Linked DNA regions of Homo sapiens: region 2 is linked to region 1. Evidence: fine-mapped expression QTL. A gene starts in region 1. The other region holds a variant in brackets. All regions are shown on one strand. Distances are between the middles of the regions. Region 1 holds the start of KIF21B (kinesin family member 21B). Region 2 overlaps KIF21B (kinesin family member 21B).

Evidence for each region. PIP is the estimated chance that this variant, and not a neighbour inherited with it, causes the effect.
Region 2: its variant is fine-mapped to the expression of KIF21B in whole blood (TOPMed, PIP above 0.99).

Annotation. Positions count from the first base shown.
Region 1 is chr1:201,020,115-201,032,273 of GRCh38, reverse strand. It overlaps KIF21B (kinesin family member 21B), which reads left to right and starts at 8,560. Exons shown (of 35, transcript NM_001252102.2): 1 at 8,560-8,931. The coding sequence starts at 8,891. It overlaps LOC101929305 (a long non-coding RNA gene), which reads right to left and starts at 8,325. Exons shown (of 4, transcript NR_188464.1): 1 at 8,189-8,325; 2 at 6,655-6,770. RefSeq lists enhancers at 3,419-3,713, 9,758-10,365, 10,674-10,803 and silencers at 7,835-7,992, 8,344-8,703, 9,104-9,153, 11,034-11,183.
Region 2 is chr1:200,993,963-201,001,962 of GRCh38, reverse strand. It overlaps KIF21B (kinesin family member 21B), which reads left to right. Exons shown (of 35, transcript NM_001252102.2): 10 at 1,183-1,246; 11 at 1,355-1,573; 12 at 1,999-2,080; 13 at 2,497-2,614; 14 at 3,388-3,579; 15 at 5,568-5,767. Among named protein-coding and RNA genes, the nearest start is that of KIF21B, 26 kb to the left of the region's middle. RefSeq lists an enhancer at 1,361-1,861. The variant C/A (reference allele first, on the strand shown) is at 3,313.

The DNA of each region.
Region 1 (12,159 bases):
GCAAGGAAAAAATGGAAGGAAGGGAAAAAGGAAAGCAGGAAGGGAGGGAGAGAGGGAGGAAAGGTGGGCAAATGCAAAAGACTGCTACATAGAACATATTAGATGGGATCATTTGAAATTGCCAATATTCTATGCCTTCTTGTCTACAAAATGGTAACTTTATATTTCACCTGGTATAATGAGGGTGTTTCCCCACTAGCCAGACCCACCCAAGTACCTCCACTCACCCTCTGGTAGTCTCTGCTCTCTGTCTTTTGTTTTGGGACAGTTTACATGTGTCTTTACCACACAAAAGGGTTAGGATGGGGGCTTACCAAGGAGGGTGGTTCTTAGGCAGTATACAGACCAAAATTGATGGGGGCTTTCTGTACCTCTTCTCATTGAGACCACCTTGAGAGGTCCCCCTCTGAGTCCCCTCTGAGCGGGGAGGCGAAAGCTGACTCAGTGATAATGTGGAGTGGTCTGCAGGTGGGGGCCCAGCCACTCTAGCACCAGCCACTGTCAGAGCTTGACTGTCTCTCCAGGAAGACCTCCCTCGCCTCTTACAGCACCCCAAATCTGATCCTCTTGTCTTAGGGTTTGACTTCCTTCAAGGCCTAGCCCCCTATCTCCTCCTTCCCCTTTTCCAGGCCAAGGGACCCTCATCACTAGAGGGTAGGAGAAAAGGGCCTCTTCCTCTACGTTCTTTTTAATTTTGGTTATGACTTAAAGTCTTTGCTCCACCCAGTCCTGGCCTGCTATTTGGATCCTCCGAGTTTAGAAGTTAAAGAGAAAAAAGGACCTTTTCCTACTTCTCCGCATCCTCACTAGATCCTAATTCCCAAATTCTCCTTAAGGCAAAGGGTCTCCTCTGTCTACGGATACAAGTGTCAGGAAATACAAGGGTTGCAGGGAGGACACAGACTAACTTTTTAAGAGTTGTTTCACCTCAGGCCAACGTGAATATCTTGGTCAAAAAGGCCTTTGAAGTGCTCCTAAAACCGCCCTGAGATTCAGCACACACACTGCCTGGAGTGCTCCATTCACTACCATCCCTTCAAACCTTCATTCCGGCTGCATTTCTGGAGAGCTGGCACTTTAGAGGTTGACCTCTCCCCACATGCTGCCTCCAAGCCCTCTCCTCTTCCCCTCGATTTTTAAAGTGTTCAATGAACATTTGCTGGCAATTTGCTCTGCAGGGTCTGGCCGAGGCAATTATCTATTAAAATCCAAGAAAATGATGCATCCTGGAGACTGAACGTCAACAGCAACCAGGCCAGGGCAGGGTGGTGGTGGTGATTTGTTAACTTCTTCGCGGGCAGGGGCGTACACAGGTGGCATCTGTCAAAGGAAGGGAATGGCTTCTCTGGGGCCTGGCTAGGACTGCTCAGAGCCTCCTCCTCATCACCAGGTCTGGGAAGGGGTTCCATCTCCTGTCTCTCATCTTCCCTTGTCCCCAGGCCTGTGGCTTCATCTCTGTTTTCCTCTTCTCTGACATCCCCAGCCTGGCCTCTTGCTGGCTCCTCTCCAGTGTCCCCCTCTTTGGTTTTATGCCACCTTTCCGTCTCTCTGTTTCTCAACTTCCCTGCCACTAGCCCCTTCTTGGGAGGTGGGACCTTCCGTGAAGCCATAGGATATGTGGGCTCAGGGATAGGTAGCCAGGACTTTAACTGACTGTCCTCATGGCCCAGGAGAAGTCACCAACCACTCTGCACCTCTGTTTGAACAAAGAAGAAGTTGGGACAAGTTACTTTTCAACAGCTTTATTGAGGTATTTAATATGATTAATGTATAATAATCTGCACATATTCAAAGTGTGTAATTTGATTAGTCTGACAAATGTATTAGCATACACCCATGGAAGCATCACCACCATCAAGACAATAAATATGCCAGGCACAATGGCTCACGCCTGTAATCCCAGCACTTTGGGAGGCTGAGGCTGACAGATTGCTTGAGCCAAGGAGTTCAAGACCAGCCTGGGCAACATGGTGAAACCGTCTCTACAAACATACAAAAATGAGTCAGGCATGGTGGTGCAGTGCACACCTGTGGTCCCAGCTACTCAGGAGTCCAAGATGGGAGGATCCCTTGAGCCCAGGGAGCTCAAGGCTGCAGTGAACCATGATCGCACCACTGTACTCCAGCCTAGGTGACAGAGCAAGACCTCGTCTCAAAAAAAAAAAAAAAAAAAGAATAAATATACCCACCACCTCAAAACATTCCTCATGCCCTCATGCCCTCCTACCCCTCCCAGTTCCCTCCCCTTGCCAGGCAACCAATGATCTGCTTTCTGACACTATAGTTTACATTTTTTAGAATTTGTATATCAGTGGAATTGTACAGCATGTGCTCTTTTTGGTCTGGCTTCTTTCACTGAGCATAATTAATTTGGGGATTCATCCATATTGTATCATGTATCAATAGTTCATTCCTTTTTATTGCTAAATAGTATCCCACCATATGATACACCACAGATTCTTAATCCATTCCCCTGTCGATGGACATTTGTTGTGTTTCCAGTTTGGGCCTATGACAAAGCTGCTGGGGTCTTTCATGGGCAAGTCTTTATGTAGACACGTGAAGCACATAATTCCTTAGGGAGCTGTGCTCACTTTCTTGGCAGCTCAGCAGCTGCCAAGACAAGATTCATCCTTTTCCGTCCCTGTAATTCAGCAGAGGACGAAACTGGCAGGCAGCATGCTTGAGTTTGAACCCTGCCCACCACTTGCAGTGTGACCTTGTGCCCCTCTTGGTGTCCTGGTTTTCTTTATGTTCCTACCTCCATGGGTTGTGTGAGCATTCCATGACTGTATGGATCTGAAGCATTTAGTGCAACGCCCAGCACAATGTTCAGAAATAGTAGCTGTTCTTATTTTGCAGGCACCTCTGAGAAGATCTATACAATCCGAAATGGGCTTCCTCTAGAATCTCCGAGCAGTTACCCTAACCCTTTGAAGTGGCTCCATTTCACAGAGGAGTTACTGAGTCCCAAAGCAAAGAGTGACTTGACAGGGTCGATCTTTGATTTGGGAGTGAATGCAGGCGTGTCCTGATACCCAACTATTTCCTAGTTGGGTGATGGGCAGAGAGGAAGTCGGAATTTTCCAATTACTTCTCAGAGTGTCTCCTAGAGAGTCCTGATAAGTAGCTCAGCACAGCCAACCAGAAGACTATGAGCCCCTAAGGGTTCATACAAAACCACACTCATTTATTCAGTCCCCCCGGCTCAGCAACCTGGAAACCCCGCAAAATCACAGTCAAATCGGGGGGAAAGAGATAAGGGTAGGGAGGCTGCCTACCCTCCTCCCCTGCCCCACAGGGCTCTAAGTAGCCCAAAAAGGGGCTCCTGTGTGTCTTAGGCAAGCAGGTCAGTCTCTGGAAGGTACTTACGCCATCTGGCATCTTTACAGACCAGGCCTCCGAACTCTGGCTCTGCCTCTTCCTAACTGTGTCAGGGTAGGCCAGGCTTGCCGTGGCAACACACAACTTGTAAGTTCAGTGGTTTAACAATAAAAGTTTATTTCTCATTTACACTCTATGAACAACATAGGTGTGAGGGTGCCAGAGTCTTAATGCTTCCACTAGAGCTGACGCACATCAGTTCCGCCACGTTTTATTGGTTAAAGTTGGTCACATGTCCACAGCTAGCATCAAAGAGTGAGAACATGCAGTCCTACCTTGTGCCAGAAGGCAGAGAGCCGGAAATATTTGGAGACAGCACTAATGACTATACACTAGCCAAGTGACCTTTGAGCTCATTTCCTCTTCTGCAAAATGGGGACGAGAACAGTATTTGCCTCATAGATTGTTGTGAGGATTAAAAGAGAAATGTTATGTAACACCCTTGGCACAGTGTGGCACATGGGTGAGGTTGAGGCCCGGGGTATTTGTGTACAATGAGGACCCAGCATGCCCAGCCTCCCTCCTCCCCTGTAAACACTGACCCTGAACCCCGAGGCCCGTCACTGAGTGGTTAGCAGAGGATGGATAATTTTCTGCAAATCTGTCTTCTCCCGCCCTCTGGATCTGACACTGACCACTTGTGCCATGCAAACTTCATTGCCATAAACTACGCCCCCACCCCCAGCCTCATTCACACTCATGTGAGACTTCTTATCCCTCACGTGACTGCTTTATGACAAATCTGCCCTTCTGTCCAGTTAGAGGATAAGAATCCATTGAAGAAGGGGTAGAGAATCCGAGGGAAATGGGAAGGAAATTAACATCTATTTTTTGCTGAGCACTGTGCTGGATGCTTGACCCACGTTACCTCATTTAAACCTCATAATAGTCCTGTAATGAAGTGAGTGTGATTATTCTCATTTTGAGATGTGGGAGCTGATGCTTGGAGTAGTTACACACAGGCCCAGGGTTACAAAGCTAGTCAGTTGCAGAGCTGGGATGTGAACCCAAAACTCGGTGACTCAGAAGACCACACTTCAGCTTCTGGGCTGTCTTTTGCTATTTCATTCAGAATTTTTTTTTTTTTTTTTTTTTTTTTGAGACAGAGTCTTGCTTTGTCCCCCAGGTTGAAGTGCAGTAGTGCGATCTCGGCTCACTGAAATCTCCACCTCCCGGGTTCAACCGATTCTCGTGCCTCAGCCTCCTGAGTAGCTGGGATTACAGGCATGTGCCGTCACATCTGGCTAATTTTTGTACTTTTTAGTAGAGATGAGGTTTTGCCATGTTGGCCAGGTTGGTCTCAAACTCCTGGCCTCAAGTGATTCACCTGCCTTAGCCTCCCAAAGTGCTGGGATTACAGGCGTGAGCCTCCACACCTGGCTTAGACCTGACTTTTATCCAGGCTATAAACTCACCAACTGCCCAACCACAGATGTTTAGCCTTTGGGTTCTATTGTGCTGCTGTGGAAACTGTCCTGCTTCTGGAGTACAGGGACTAGGCTTTTAGTCACTGCTCAGTCCCTACCTTACTATGCAACTTTGGACAAGTCCTTTTACCTCTCTGGGCCTGAGTTTCTTCACTGAAAATGAAAGGGCTGGACTAAATTTCTCAGGTTCTTTCCATATCTAGGATTTGGTAACATTGAGAATTGCCCACATCTCTTCCTGCCTTTGGCCCTAATACTGTATTAGAAAGCATCACAAAGTAGAAAGGCAGATAAAGATCCCACATTTGAAGTTATACAGAGCATTAATTAGACTCTCGTTATTATTTGAAACTAAAAATAGTTTGTTTTAAGATTGATGGCGTGTTTGTAATCCATAGCAGGTTTCTCCCTTCCTTGCTATTTATAACAACTCTGGTTTCCTCTGTAACTAAGTCTGTCTCCTCCTATAAAAGAGGAAGTCAGGCTAAGTCTGCTCCTGAGCTAAGATCTCCTGAGTCTGCACCCCAGGAGAGGCTCTCTGGAGCTCTGAGCTCCTGTTGCTGGGCAGAACTCGGCTTAGTCTCCAGGTGGGCATTGGAAGATATGGCTGGACTATATGCCAGCAGGATGGGCTATGCCTGCTCTCCCATGGAACCATGCATAGCTGCTGGGGTGTGGCTGGGTATTAGGACTGGAGGTCCAGAACGCTGTATCTTCCACTCCTACAAGTTTTGCTTAATGCTTAGAGTTTTTTTGCAAATGCCAATGCCCAGTGCTAACCTGAAGAAGATAAAAGGAAACAGGGCTCAAGTTCAGGCCACTTTTGGGAGACATTTCCAGGGCCTATAAGTATCTCTTAGGTTTTTGATTTGTTCCTATAGGGTTGTTGTTGAGAGCTGGGTGTCCTGGAAGATCTGGGCATCCCAGATGGCTGCCCCAAGTTGCTGCCGGATTATTTTAACTACAGTAGCGTGGGAGCTTCCTGCCTCAGAGAGGGCTCCCCACACCTCCCCCAGGTTCCCATCTGCCCAGACGCCCACAGCTCCTGTCAAGAGAAATGATGGAAGCCCCAAGATACCTGGGGGAAGGGCCTCAGCTCAGGACAAGAGCTGGGGCTCCAACCCCAGTCCAGTCAGAGAACTCTCAGGGCCAGCTCATGGTTGTATGCATGTGTGTGTGTTTGCCTGTTTCTGTGAGACAGTGAGGAAAGCATGGGGGTGGGGGAGATAGGCACACGGGCAGCTAATCCTGAGAAACTCTGGGGTTTGGGAAGGAGGGAAGGAAAGGAAAGCTGGAAGGGGATAGAGGTGATGGGAGAGAGGGGGATGGGTAAAAACCAAAGAGAGGAAGCAGTGGCTGTGCTGAAGCTGGACAGAAACTGAAAAGGGCAAGGCTTGTCCTAAACTTCCTCTGACCCATCTAACCTAAATCTCCCCACGCTGTGGTTTAAGCCTTTTTCCCACCTTGGTTCTCCATCTAGCCTCTGAGCAGCAGAACCCAGGGGGGATGTCTGGATGCTGGCTGCCCTGCTGCTCCCTGGTGGCCCAGGAGGGAGCTACTTCTGAGTAGCCGAAGTCCTGAGGCTCTGACATTTAGGAGACCTGAGTTTCCCGCCCGTGTGTATCCCTGCTTCCCCTGACTCAACACCCAGTGACCTGGAGGGATGCAGAGAGGGTGGGCAGCAGCTCTGGAGGCATTTCCCAGCAGTAGAACTGTGAGTCAGAAGGGTCATCTACTGTCGGAAGTCAGAGGGGACCTCCTGCAGGCAGGAAACCAGAGTTGGGCCCCAGAGAAGTCCAGAGATGAGTTGGCGGGAAAGTAGCTCTTCAGAATGCAACATTACCATCCGGGAAGGCTGAACCTGGAGTCCGCTGTGCCTAGAGGAAAAGCCTGGGCCGGCCTAGCTCCCTTCTGCCTGGACATCATCATCCCTTCCACCTTGGTGGTCATCTGGGAAGCCTGGAATAAGATATACATGTCCAAATCTGGAGTCTGTTGCTTATATGCTGGAATTCATACATGTGAGGCTCAGTTTCCCCATCTGCAAAATTTAAAAAGAATAAAAAAGCCTAGCTTACAAGGTTATAGGGAAAAAATGAGAATATGTGCATAAAATACCTTGTGTAGGTGGTCCATATGTGTTAGTCTCCTCCCCACGAATTATTTTGGTTGGAAGATGGGGAGGAATGTTGCAGGATATGACTGCAACATTCTGCTAACCTCCTGGTCCAGGAGAGGTGATCCCCTGGCCCCAGGGAGAGCTTCCTCTAGATTCAAATGCTAATAAAAGGTCCAGGATACCACCAAGACCTCTTCTCCAGCCCCCATCATGGGGGCACTGCTGGCGGTGCTCCTCCTGTTTGCCATGGGGATGAAAAGGATGTGTTGATTGGCCCTTGAAATTTGCCCTTGAAATTATCTTTGGTTTTGATTTGACCTTAATAGGTCAAGCCAAACAGGGATCTGAGCTACTGCATGAAGCAGTTATTGGCGGGGAGGGGGGTGTGAGTGGAGGAGGGAAGGGGAGGAAGATGGTACCAACAGATGCATCCTCAGACCCCAGTCCACACCCTTGCCAAAATCTCTGACATGGTTTCATCATCTGAGGGTAATGTAAGAGGCCTGGAGTCAGACTCCCCTTCCTCCCCTCCCCCAGAGATCCCCATCCACATCTGGGGCTGCAGCTGGGTCCTCCTCTTGGGCCCTTTCCAGGGGAGGGAGCTGGGTGAAGTGAGGGCAGCTGGTGAGGGGCCCTGTGAATGGCCCCAATGTTGGGAGGCAGGGGGCAGGGAAGAGGCGTCTGGGCTCAGAGGGAGGGAGATGGACTGGGAAGGGAATTGTGACTTTGCAGCACTGGTCTCCTCCTCCATCCAGGCCCAGCGTTAAAGTCTCCATGGTCCTCCTTGTCCTTTATACCCATTCCTGCAGGCAGCTGCCCTCCTTCCCTTCCCCACCCACTTCACCGCCCAGCCTCTCTACCCAGGTGCTCGGAACTGAGGGCCCCCTTTGTTCCCTCCTTTCCCCCAGGGCAGCTCAGGCCTCCCACACTGACCCTCTGGCCCCACAGCCACAACAAGCAGAGTGTGAGCCAGGCCCAGTGGGGTCATCTGTGGGTCATAAAGGTCAATGGGACAGTCGTCTAGCAGTAGGGAGGGGCTAGTCTTGGGCTAGGAGCCTGGCCAGGAATCAACTAAAACATGAGCTTTAAGATGCTGCAGGGTGGAGGTGGGGGAAATTTTAGTTAGGGGCTAGCAAGAACTCCCTTCGAGAAGGGTTGGCGAATTTACTGGAATAAATGCAGAAGGGAAGCTTTCCTGGCTCTTTTGAACTATAAACCGTCAATCGCTGTGGGATCCCCGGGAGACCAGGGTTCTTACCATGCTTACCCACGAACTCGCTCTGTAACCTTCGGTAGTTCCCCTCTTTGAATCTCAGTTTCTTCATTTATGAAATGAGGGTCCCATTGAAGCCGAGGTTCTGCTACTCCAGGAGCCGAGGTTCTAACGTGGTCTGCGTCCAGCGCCCCCACCCCTACTCCCACCCCTACCCCCACCCCCACCCTTCAATCCCGCCCCCTACCCCCAGCCACCCCGTGGCCGCGAGCCAAGAGGTCCCTTTAAAGGCGCGAGTCCCGCCCCCACTGCTCATTAGGGCTTTCGATTGGCGGCTCCTGGGCGGGGCGGGGCCCGGCCTGGGCTCGGGGCTGGCTCGGGGCGGGCTCGGGGCCGGATCGGCCCCCGCCCCCTTTGTTCGCGCTGCGGCGGGAGGTGGCTGCCGGGTGGGAGGTGTGTGCGCGTGTGCCGCGCCGTAGGGAGCGGCGGGTCGCGCCGCCGGCTGTCAGCTAGCTCCGCGCCGCCGCCCGATGGCGCGAGGAGGCGCGCGGGCCCAGCCCCGGGGGGCCGGCCGCGGGTGAGCCCCTCGGCCTGCCGCCCGCGAGCATGTCACCTCCAGCCGCCGCCGCCGCAGCCTCCGCCAGCCGCGCCCGCGCCCCCGCCTCCCGCAGCCGCAGCCGCTGCCTCGGGCATTGGCCCCCAGACCCCCGCCTCTGATCCACGCCCAGACCCTAGCTCCAGAGGGCCATGGCCGGCCAGGGGGACTGCTGCGTCAAGGTGGCCGTCAGGTAGGGACCCGGGGCGGGGAAGGGGGCGCGCGGAGAAGCCTCGGGCTTTGTCTCGCGTGGGCTTTGGGCGGGGGGCGCGAGCACCGCTTGGGCTGGAGCCTGCACTCCCGGAGGAGGGGCCGGCGTGGGACGGGATGGAGGGCGCCGCGCGCTGGCCAGTCTGCCGCAGGGGAGCGGCGACCCCGCCGACTACTGGAAGGTGGCTTTGTTTGGGTGGTAATTTTGGGCCCCTCTTGGGAGCCCTTAATGATCAGAAAATCGAATAAACAAGGAAATCCGGTATTTCACACCCAGCTCTGGCCCAGGCCGGAGCGTCTGTGCGTTTCCTCTTCGCCTCCCCACGAGGCTGCTGTCTCATACGGGGATACCAGAGAGGGAAATTTCCCCTCATCCATGCGAGTCAGCTAGTTATGTGCTCTTGGTCCAGCTAGCAAAGGCAGCACACCCACCCTGGGAGCCAGATCTGCAGACAAAGATCGGGTGCGGGGACCAACGGAAAAGCTGGGATGATGCCTTGGCCTTCTGTGGGAAGTCAATGGCTTTGGGGGAGAATCCTACCAGTCCTGTCCCAAGAGGAGATGGGCCTAGGAAGGGAGGAAGAGGTGTATCTGAGGTGCTTCTCTCTGAGAGGGCAGGAGGGTGTGATGCAGATGCCCCATCCTCAGGCACTCAGATAAAATTGAGCAGGGGAGGGTTGCCTAGACTTATCTGGGGTTCCATTCTCAACAGCTCCGGGACTTGAGCCGGCAGAAATGAGACAGGGAGAGGACATGGCTGGGTGGGTTCTATTGGGAGGGGTACACAAAGGTGCAGGAGCAGGAAATGCTGTGAAATTGAGCCATCTGTGTTCTTTGTGCTGGGTGGAGATGCTTCACACCTCACCACTTCTCCCAGTTTTTGCTTTGGGTTTTTCTCTTTGAGAGGGGTGTCTTGGCGGCAGAGTGCCAATCTGGAGCTGCTCACCAAGGTAGGGATGTGGCAAGAACATCTATCTCTGCCCCAGCCCTGTATGATGGAGGGGGCGGGGGATTGTCCAGGTCTAGGGTAGGTCTCTCAGGTCTCTAGATCCCTTGGGTCATATGTGACCCAGATTCCAGGGGTCCTAGGAGGTTGCTCCTAGACAGAGTCAGAGATGGCAATGAAAAAGCTTTCTTCTTCCTGCCCCAGGGCAGATGCCCCTTGCCACGGCCACCTGGCCAGGCCTCTGCAGCCCAAAGAGGAGCTGACACTGATCAGTGCTTGGGTGAAGGGAAGGAGATTGAGGCACCCCCACCCATGCACCCTAGGCAGCACTCAAGAATCACTTGAGCACAGCTTTCCTGGCCCTGAGCAGCCAGAGACAAAGAGGAGCCCTGCAGGTGCCTGGTGGGCTGACTGGGGCGGGGCCAGGCTGCTGCTGGGGCTGACATTGCAGCAGGATCTTGTGGAGGTCGAGGGAGGGGTGCATGGCTGGGGGGTGGGAGTGAGAAATGTAAATATGGCATCTGCAGCAGATTGGGAGAGTCCGAGAACACCATAAAAGGGAAATGAAGCTCTGGCCCCCACCCATTGTGAATGAGGGCTGGGAAGGAAGGGGCTTGGGGGTGCCCTTTCCACAGGGGGTTTCCTTTAGATTCCATCTTGCTGGAGAGAGCTAAACAAAGGCCCCCTACCTCTGTTCAGGTCTCCAGGCTGGACTGGGGCTGAAAAGATGTGGGACTCCCACCCGGGGAGCCTCATGGGATTGGCACAGTGAGGAGAAGCTGATGTTCTCTTCCCACTGCCACCTCTAGAAGCTTCCCGGGACCCTTTCTGCAGAGAAGGGATCATGCCTGCCCTCTGCACCCAGTTCAGGACCATGTGTGTCATCTCTGGTTCCCAGTCAGATTGCCCTAAGTGGGGTCTGGGTGCCCCCACGCCTTGCCTTTCAGTTGCTGATCTGGATTGGGGGTGGGGCATTTGAGCATCAGAAGTCAGGCTTTCAGGGTCTCCGGGAAGGTAAGGGCCCCGCCCACTCCTCCCCTCCCACCCCAGCATGAGCGCCCAGCCCCGGCACACGCCAGACCTCAATGGGCAGCCGGCCGTGTACAGCAGACAATGCCTGGACAGAACCCAGTTTCTAATCAGAGAGCTTAGGACTGAGCTGGGGCTGGGCTGGGCTGGGAAGGAGAGCAGATGGTACCAGTGATGGGCTGTAGGGGGAGTTTTCCTTGTTTTTAGATCCTCTTCTACCCATCCTCCCCCGCAGCACCCCCAGAAATCACTTCTCTCACCTGAAAGACTGGGTGGTGGGCTGCACTACAGTAGACCATTTATGGGAAGGGCAAGGCTTGTCCAGGGCCTAGTCCAGCCCCAGGGCTCACTACCTCCTGCCAGGTTCAGCTGTCTTTCTGACTTTCTGGAAGTCCTTTCTTGAATCCAACTGAAGTGCCTTCTGAATTTCCATGAGAATAACATAGCGAGCCTGGAGTCCAGCTCTTCAGACAGGGAAGGCCAGGAATGAGACAGGTGTGGTCTGATTGTGTGTGTGTGTGTGTGTGTGTGTGTGTGTGTGTAGAGGAGAGAGGTCCCAGGGCTATTAGACTAGGTGAGAAGTGCCAGGCCTAAGGCTCTTGGCCCTGCAATCTGTTTGGGATGAAGAGATCGAAGCTGGCTGGCTGTGAAACGCTTCAGTGAAGGCCTGGGCTCCTGGAGAGCCGGAGGAGGAAACTTTCAGGACCTGGGGCTCAGGGTAAGGGAAGAAAGTTCAGGGGTGAGCAGACCCCAAAAGCCCCACCTTGTGGCCTCCCCAGCTAGATGGAATCTGGCCCATCTGTCCCTGAACCCAGGCTAGTCGGCTTTGCACCAAGGGATTCCCAGGCTGGCCTCTCCAGCCTGCCCTGTGATCCCTTTATCCATTAATCCCCTTGTACTGTAAAGATTCTCAGCTTCCTGGGCTGGACTAGAACTGGCAGTCACCTGGGGGAGGAGGTGTGTAGCAAGGCTAGAGAGAGGTGGGGCGGAGCTGTGACCTGCCCCAGGCTGCAGAGATATAGGCCTGACAAATGGGGCGAGAAAGGGGTAGCTGTTAAGAAATGCAAGTTGGCAAAGTTGAAATTGGGGAAGGAAGCTAAGTCACATGGCAAATTTGTTTAAGACCCTTTCAAGTCCCCAGCTCTGAGCCCCCACCATGAGGGGAGACCTCAGTGTTGCCTAGCCCCCTCCCCTCTTATCTCTGCCTGGCTTCCCTAAGCTTCCTTCCTTTAGTCT
Region 2 (8,000 bases), 28 kb after region 1:
ATGCAAACAATACATCACTATATGAAGTGAAAGATTAAAATCGCCTCTCCCTGAACCCTCCACCCCAAGCCCTCTCTACTTCTCAGAAGGAACCTCTATGAGCAGCTTGGTGTGTATTTTCCCACACCTTTCTCAGTATTTGTTTCAAGTATGAATATGTATTCATATACATTCTTAAATGTGTGTATGATATAGACTACTTTTTCTATGTATGAGATTATATATATTGCTCTAAGACTTCCCTTTTTCATTTAGCATTATGTTTTATAAATCTTTCCATATTAAACCTACTTCTGGTTCACGCCTGTAATCCCAGCACTTTGGGAGGCCACGGCAGGAGAATCACTTGAACCCAGGAGTTTGAGACCAGCCTGGGCAACATAGGGACGCCTAGTCTCTACAAAAAATACAAAAATTAGCCAGATGTGGTGGCACATGCCTGTAGTTCATGTTACTTGGGAGGCTGAGATGGAAGGATTGCCTGAGCCCGGGAGGCTGAGGCTGCAGTCAGCTGTGACTCTAGCCTGGGCGACAGAGCAAGACCTTGGCTCTAACCAAAAAATAAAAATTTAAAAAAACCTACTTCTCTTCATCTTCTGCCATGGTGTCCCATATGTGACAATGATGAATAAATTTATTATAGTAGCCTTCTAGTGATGGGCATTTAGGTTGTTTCCAGTTTCTTGCTATTGCCAACAGTGCTTGTATACCTCTGTGCAAAGTATTTTTTCTATAGATTTCTTTTTGGAAAAGGCCCATATGAGCTGCCCTATTAGAGGCACAGATATAAGAGCAGTAGTATCAGTGGTGTTGAAGACCCTTGCTGCTATTTATCTTTTTTTTTTTTTTTTTTCTGAGACGGAGTTTCGCTCTTGTTGCCCAGGCTGGAGTGCAATGGTGTGATCTTGGCTCACCGCAACCTCCACCTCCCAGGTTCAAGCGATTCTCCTGCCTCAGCGTCCCGAGTAGCTGGGATTAGAGGCATGCGCCACCACGCCCGGCTAATTTTGTATTTTTAGTAGAGACGGGGTTTCTCCATGTTGGTCAGGCTAGTCTCGAACTCCCAGCCTCAGGTGATCCGCCCGCCTTGGCCTCCCAAAGTGCTGGAATTATAGGTCTGAGCCACCGCGCTGGCCTATTTATCTTCTTTATCGCACCCTTCTTCCCGCCGTCCCACTCCAGGCGATGGCAATGAGGCCATTGGTGCGCTGATCCAGAACTACATCCGGGAGATCGAGGAGCTACGGTGAGTGAGTGAGCTCCGGCAGGTGTGCGCGGGCTGGGGGCCTCGGCCAGGTGACGCCAAGGGCTGTGGCAGCTCACTCGGCCCCGTCCACTCGTTCTTCCTGTGCAGGACTAAGCTTCTAGAGAGTGAAGCCATGAACGAGTCCCTGCGCCGCAGCCTCTCACGGGCCTCGGCTAGGAGCCCCTACTCCCTGGGTGCTTCTCCAGCCGCCCCGGCCTTCGGGGGCAGCCCTGCCAGCTCCATGGAGGATGCCTCGGAGGTGATCCGCAGGGCCAAGCAGGACCTGGAGCGGCTAAAGAAGAAGGAGGTCAGGCAGCGGAGGAAGAGGTGAGTGGAGTGTCGTCCCCGCCCCTGAGAGCCCTCAGACCGCCCCAGTGGACCCTGCCCGTCCCCAAGGAGGACTGCTGCCCACCAGTGTTTAGGAGGGAACCTCCACGCCCCCAGCCCCAGGGGCTGCCTCAGTATTGCTTGGGAATTCATGGCGCAGATTTGCTCAGCCTTTTGGGCAACCTCCCTCCCCCACGTTCTCCTATGCCATCTGCTTTCCCCCAAGGAGAGGAAGGACTGAGCTGAGCCAAGGTCAGCTCTGGGTGGCCCTAGGGAAGAGCAGTGGGGTTCTCTGCAGAGTAGGAGCCAGTGCTCTCCCCGGCCTCTGGTGAGAGCCTTCCTTTTCTGCCGCTGCCGCCGTCCTGCCCATGTGCTCAGGGCAGGGGCAGCCTTCCTAATCCAGCTTCCCTGTCCTCCCTGAGCAGCCCCGAGAAGGAAGCCTTCAAAAAGAGGGCAAAACTCCAACAGGAGAACAGCGAGGAGACGGATGAGAACGAGGCGGAGGAGGTGAGGAGCACGGGCCGCCCCACCTCACCACATGCATGCCTTGTGTCCCTGCTGGGGTTGGCGGGGGCCCCATCCGCATCCTTGTATGGAGTGAAGGAGGCGGTTGGGTCTGCATCCAGTTGATCCTTGTACTTCCTTATATCTCTGACTGGTTACCATGGTGATCTCCATCCCCTAGGACCCCACCTCATCCCAAACGGATGATGCAGGTGGGGAGGCCCTCCTAGAGGGGTTCTGCGGTGGTGTTGGGGGAGGCGGCACTCTTCCAGGAGTAGGGGGTGGGCAGGGGGGCTCAGCTGTGGCCTGCCCCAATCCCCACCCTCCTGACACACCTGAGGCATTGTGTCGGGATGCACCTCTGCTTCTGGGCTCCCCTCTCTGAGGCCAGGCCCACCCCAATGGTGCCTGGTGCCCAGGAGGAGGAAGAGCGAGACGAGAGTGGCTGTGAGGAGGAGGAAGGGCGCGAGGATGAAGATGAGGACTCGGGCAGTGAAGAGAGCCTGGTGGACTCAGACTCAGACCCCGAGGAGAAGGGTGCGTGGGCCTGAGCTGTGGGCTGTGGGGGATGCAATGCCTGGCTGCCAGTGCCCAAGTGTGGGGTCGGGCCCTGCTCAAAGATAATGGTGTCCAGGCCCCAGCACTCCCAGACGTGAAACCAATGACAACAGGCAGTCATGATGAGAATGATGGCAAACACTTCCTGGTCGTTCATTAGGTGCCAGGCACTGTGCTTACCTTAACCCTTTGAGCGGCTAGGTTCTTTCAGTCTTCACTGCAACTGTATGCATAGGGGTGGTGAGCTTCCCTATATCACCACAGAGGAACAAGCTCACAGGGGTTTAGTGACCTTCCCCAGTGTGGTCCATGCAGAGCAAACATGAATGTAGGCCTGACTGGTGCCAAAGCCCTCTCCTCTAAATGGAGATGCCTGCCCCTTCAGCCCTGCCTGCTGCCAGCCCTGGCCCTAGCCCTGTAAGTTGCTCTCAGCCATCTCACCCTCCTCCACTGAAGCTGGTCCCATGTCATCTGGAACAGGTGGATGCTGGCCTCGAATGGCTGGGAAGGACGTGTAGATCCCCCCTGCCAGCTCCTGAGCCCTACCTTGCCTTTCTGGAACTGCTCTTTAAATGTGTTCCTCCTTCTGGCCGCATTCTACCTGCATTAGGATTTATCATTTTGCCCAGTCTCTGGTCACTGATTGGTCATGGCTGACCAAAGGAGGGTCCCAGCTC[C/A]CCAGCACTGGCACATCTGCTCCCCAATTTGCCCCTCGCCCTAACGCTGGGCTGAGCCTGATTGTGCCCCCATAGAGGTGAACTTCCAGGCGGACCTGGCCGACCTGACTTGTGAGATCGAAATCAAGCAGAAGCTGATCGACGAGCTGGAGAACAGCCAGCGGCGGTTGCAGACGCTCAAGCACCAGTATGAGGAAAAGCTGATTCTGCTGCAGAACAAGATCCGAGACACACAGCTGGAGCGCGACCGTGTGCTGCAGAACCTCAGTGAGGCCACCGCCATGCCCCTCCACCCCATCCGGACCCTCCCTTTTCCCTGAGCCCCTCCTCTGTCAAAAGCAGCTGGTGTGTTGGGGTTATCCTGGCCTTCTAGGCAAGGGACTTCCCAACCTTTGACTGTGGTCCTTTGACCCACAGTTAAAGGTTCTTACGTCTAACCCTAGTTCCTATGAAACATTGTAAATTGATTTTTTTTCTTTGCTATCACGTCATGTATTAGAATTCTTTATATACCTAGGCACGCGAACATGACACTCCCAGCCTTTCCTCCTGCACTCAGTTCCTTGGGTCTTTTCCTTTGGACCTGTTTGTAACCGTTCTTACATTCTATCTTCATTATGCTGCTCTTCAGCCCATTCATTCCATTTTTTATTCATTCATTGATTTACTTATTCAGCAAACACATGTTGAATATGTCTTACAGAGCAGACATTGTTCTAGTGCTAGAGATATTGGAGTGGACAGAATCCCTGCTCTCGTGCAGCATACATTCTAGTGGGGAAAGACAAACATAAACGAAAGAGCAGAAACTATAGTGTGTCAAATGGTGATAAGTATAGCCAGGAAGGGGAACAGGAACTACTGAAGAGTGAGTTGGAGTTTTGTTTTGTTTTGTTTTGAGACAAAACAAATCAAAAATCTCTCTCTGTTGTCCAGGCTGGAGTGCAGTGGCGTGATCTCGGCTAACTGCAACCTCTGACCCCCGGTTCAATCGATTCTCCTGCCTCAGCCTCCTGAGTAGCTGGGACTACAAGCGCCCGCCACCACGCCCGGCTAATTTTTGTATTTTTAGTAGAGACAGGGTTTCACTATATTGGCCAGGCTGGTCTTGAACTCCTGACCTTGTGATCCGCCTTCCTTGGCCTCCCAAAGTGCTGGGATTACAGGCATGAGCCACCGTGCCTGGCCGAATTGGAGTTTTTTAAAGGATGGTCGTGAAGACTTCACTGAGCAAAGACTTGAAGGAGTTGATAGTGCTAGAGCAGCACCAACCAGGGGAAGAGCGTCCCAGACAGAGGGAACAGGAGATGCCAAGGCCATAAGGGTGCCATGTGCCTGGCATTTTGGCAGAACGATAAGGGGACCAGGATGGTTAGAGCACAGTGAGAGGGGACAGGTCGGAGAAGAAATGTCATTGTAAGGACATTGCCTTATACTCTGAGGGAGACGGGATGTGTGGAGTTTCAAGAGAGCTACGTGATACCAAATTTAAAAGCATTTTTAAAAGACTACTCTGGCTGCTGCATGGGGGAGTGAAAGTGGAAGCTGGAGACCACTTAGGAAACTGTTCTAAAGATCCCAGGAGAGGTGGCTTAGGAGGTGGTGAGAAGTCAGATTCTGGATATGTTTTTCAGGTTGAGCCAGAAGGCTTTGTTGATTGCTTGCTGGGAGGTAGATGTGAGGGAGAGGGGAGCCAAGGATGCCTCAGGGTGTGAGCTTCTGGAAGGAGCGTGATGCTGTGTACTGAGATGGGAGAGGGGTAGAAATGAGGAGTTGGGTTTTGTACCTGTTAAGTTGGAGATGTCTGTTGGTAGTTCTGGTAGGAGAGGCCAAGAGTGGAGAATCAGCTTATTCCTTCTGCCCTGGCCCACACCATTCTGTCTTCTCTTGCAAACTCTTCCCCTTCCCACAGGCCCCAGCTCTTTCCTCCAACACTGGATCATGGGTCAGAACCCAGCCAGCATGAGTGAGTTACAGGACCCTCGTGGGAAGTTGGGGACCAGGGGTTCAGAGATCTTAAGATGAAAACACCCCTGCCCATTACAATAGGATGTCAGAGCAGGAAGGGGCCTTGGGCATCAACTAGTCTGACCCCCTCATTCAAATGATGAAACAGGCTCAGAGAGGGGTGTGACTTGCCCAAGGTCATACAATGAGACTGGAACAGAGGGTTCCTGCGTTCCCCCTTGATGACCCTGTATTTAGTGGGAGCCCTTAGGGACCCAGCACCGACAGCTGCGTCTCCTTGCTCTCAGGCACCATGGAGTGCTATACTGAGGAGAAGGCCAACAAGATCAAGGCAGACTATGAGAAGAGGCTGCGGGAGATGAACCGGGACCTGCAGAAGCTGCAGGCCGCCCAGAAAGAGCACGCCCGGCTGCTTAAGAACCAGTCGCGCTACGAGAGGGAGCTGAAGAAGCTACAGGCCGAGGTGGCTGAGATGAAGAAGGCCAAGGTAGGGGCCGAGGGTGTGAGGAGTGGGGCCTGGAGTGCCTGTGACATCTTCTTAGAATCCACTCACCATCGTAAAAATAATCATTGCTGTCAAGTGTGGATTCTCTTCTCAACACACAGCATTAACCTAGTTTGACCCTGTCTTGGCCCTTGACACGGTCCTCTTAGCTGAGTGCATCGTCCAAGGTGAAACACCCTGCCCAGTAGTGGGGCCAGTGTGCGGGGATGCTGGGGTGCACAGGGGTCGTGTTCAGGGCAGGTGAGGATTTCAGGGGACCCCACTTGGTGCTGCCTCCTGTTGGGGAGGCTGCAGCATACTCGCTTCGGGTCTGCGCAAAGTGCACATGAGGCCTCTCATTTGGTGCAACCTGGCCCTGAGTGATAATAGTAACAGTTACCATCGTTTGAACATTTACTATGGCCAGGCTCCAGGCTAGTCATCTCACACGCATGATCACATTCAGTCCTTAGAAGAACCTCTTGAAAGAAGTCTATTATTATTCTTTTATGTATGAGAAAGTGAGGCTCAGAGAAGTTAATTCCAGCTTCCAAGAGGTAGCACTGGGATTTGAACTCAGTTCTCTGGCTCCCAAGCCACTGTGTGTTCCAGGTGGCACAATGCCTCCCTTTTCTACTTTGCCACCACTCAGAGTGCTCTAGTCTCTGGGGCCTGGGGCCTGCCCCTGTGCTTCTGACTTCAGGGCTCAAGTCTTGTGTTTCCAGTGTCTGGTGTGTTCTGGCTCCTGTCTGGGGCTCAGCAGATCCATGCTCCCTTTCAGTCCTCCCTCCCCTTGGACCTTCCAAGTCCTACATTCCTGCCTGCTCTGATCCTCAGCCCTCAGTGGAGCCCAGATCCCCACAGCCCTGGGCTAGGCCCTGGGCACTGGTGGCAGCCCCAGTAAGCTGTGAAGGGCTGGCCTTGGGGACAGAGACATAGGAAAGGGGAGCTCCCCAGTGCCTGGGGCTGATGGGGCATCTAGCAGCCATTGGTAGCTACATGCTCACAGCCGACTCAATGTGCAGAGGAGAGAGGCAATGCAGTGGTGGCTGATGTAGATTCTGAGAAGAGGTGGTGGACCCATAGCTGTCATTGAGGCCCAGCCACCTCACCTGGGCAGGCTCTGTGCCCAAGCCTGGGCTGCAGGTCCGGAGGCTTCATCAACCTGACTAGAGTGGAGAAGTCCCTGCCTTGCTGTGCTCAGACCTGCTTGGCCTGGGCTGGCCCCAAGGAGCCCTGTTTGCACCATCTCCTTCAGTGCGTTCACCCTGTGGGGTGTTGAGACTCAAGTGTGGACTCAAGTACCCAGATCACCCAAGGGCCCCTGCACCCACTGATGGTTTAGAGGGAGGGGCTGGTGGGCCTTCATTATCTCTGGGGTGGAGCAGCACTCCCAACAGGGGCCTGCACATGCTGTTGCAGCTTCTGGGGTGCGCTTATGTGCGTCCCCACTCTGTCTCCCTGGGAGTTCCCAGCTGATGCCATTGCAGGGTACCCCATCGTGTCCTGGCCAGCTCACATCTCAGCTGCGGAGGCCCTGGAGAGCCTCATGAGGGAAGATCCTTGTATGGCTCTGAAGCCTGGCAAATAATGTAACGCCAAGATGCATCTGACAGAAGGCTCATGTGTAGACCTGTGTTTCAGTCTCTGGATTGCTGAGCTCCTTCAGCCACGTGCCTGGCTCTGTCCACATTGACAGTGTTCTTATGAACCCAGAGCTAGAAGCAGAGAGGAACACCCTTGGGTCATCCCAGGAGGGGCCTAGGTTTTCTGTTGGAGGGACAGAAGGTGCAGCAGCCGAGGATTCAAATCAGACACTGTGAGAGCCAGTGCCCCAGAATCCTCCCATGGCTGTTCAGCTACAGGGCCCCAGCGATTCACAGAATGGAACTGGGGTGGGGCCTGCAGCCACGGGGTCTCCCAGGGAGAGGCCACAATGCCTTCTACCTTAAACCTGCGAAGTGATGCTGGTCTCGGGTACCGTGGCATGTTTCCGCTTGTCATGTGCCTGGAATGTGCTCACCTGTTCTGAGACCTTTGCCTCTGTGGTAGCCACCATGGTGCTTGGCTACACATGCAAAGTCGGGTGGATGAGTCTTTGACCAGGAAGACATAGCACCTCCCCAGGAAGCCTTAAGCCCCTGACCCCGGAAGACACCTGACACCTTGGGTTTGCACACAGCTCCTGGGATGCTGGAGTTTTCAGGTCCACTTTTAGCCGAGGGTCTGACTTGTT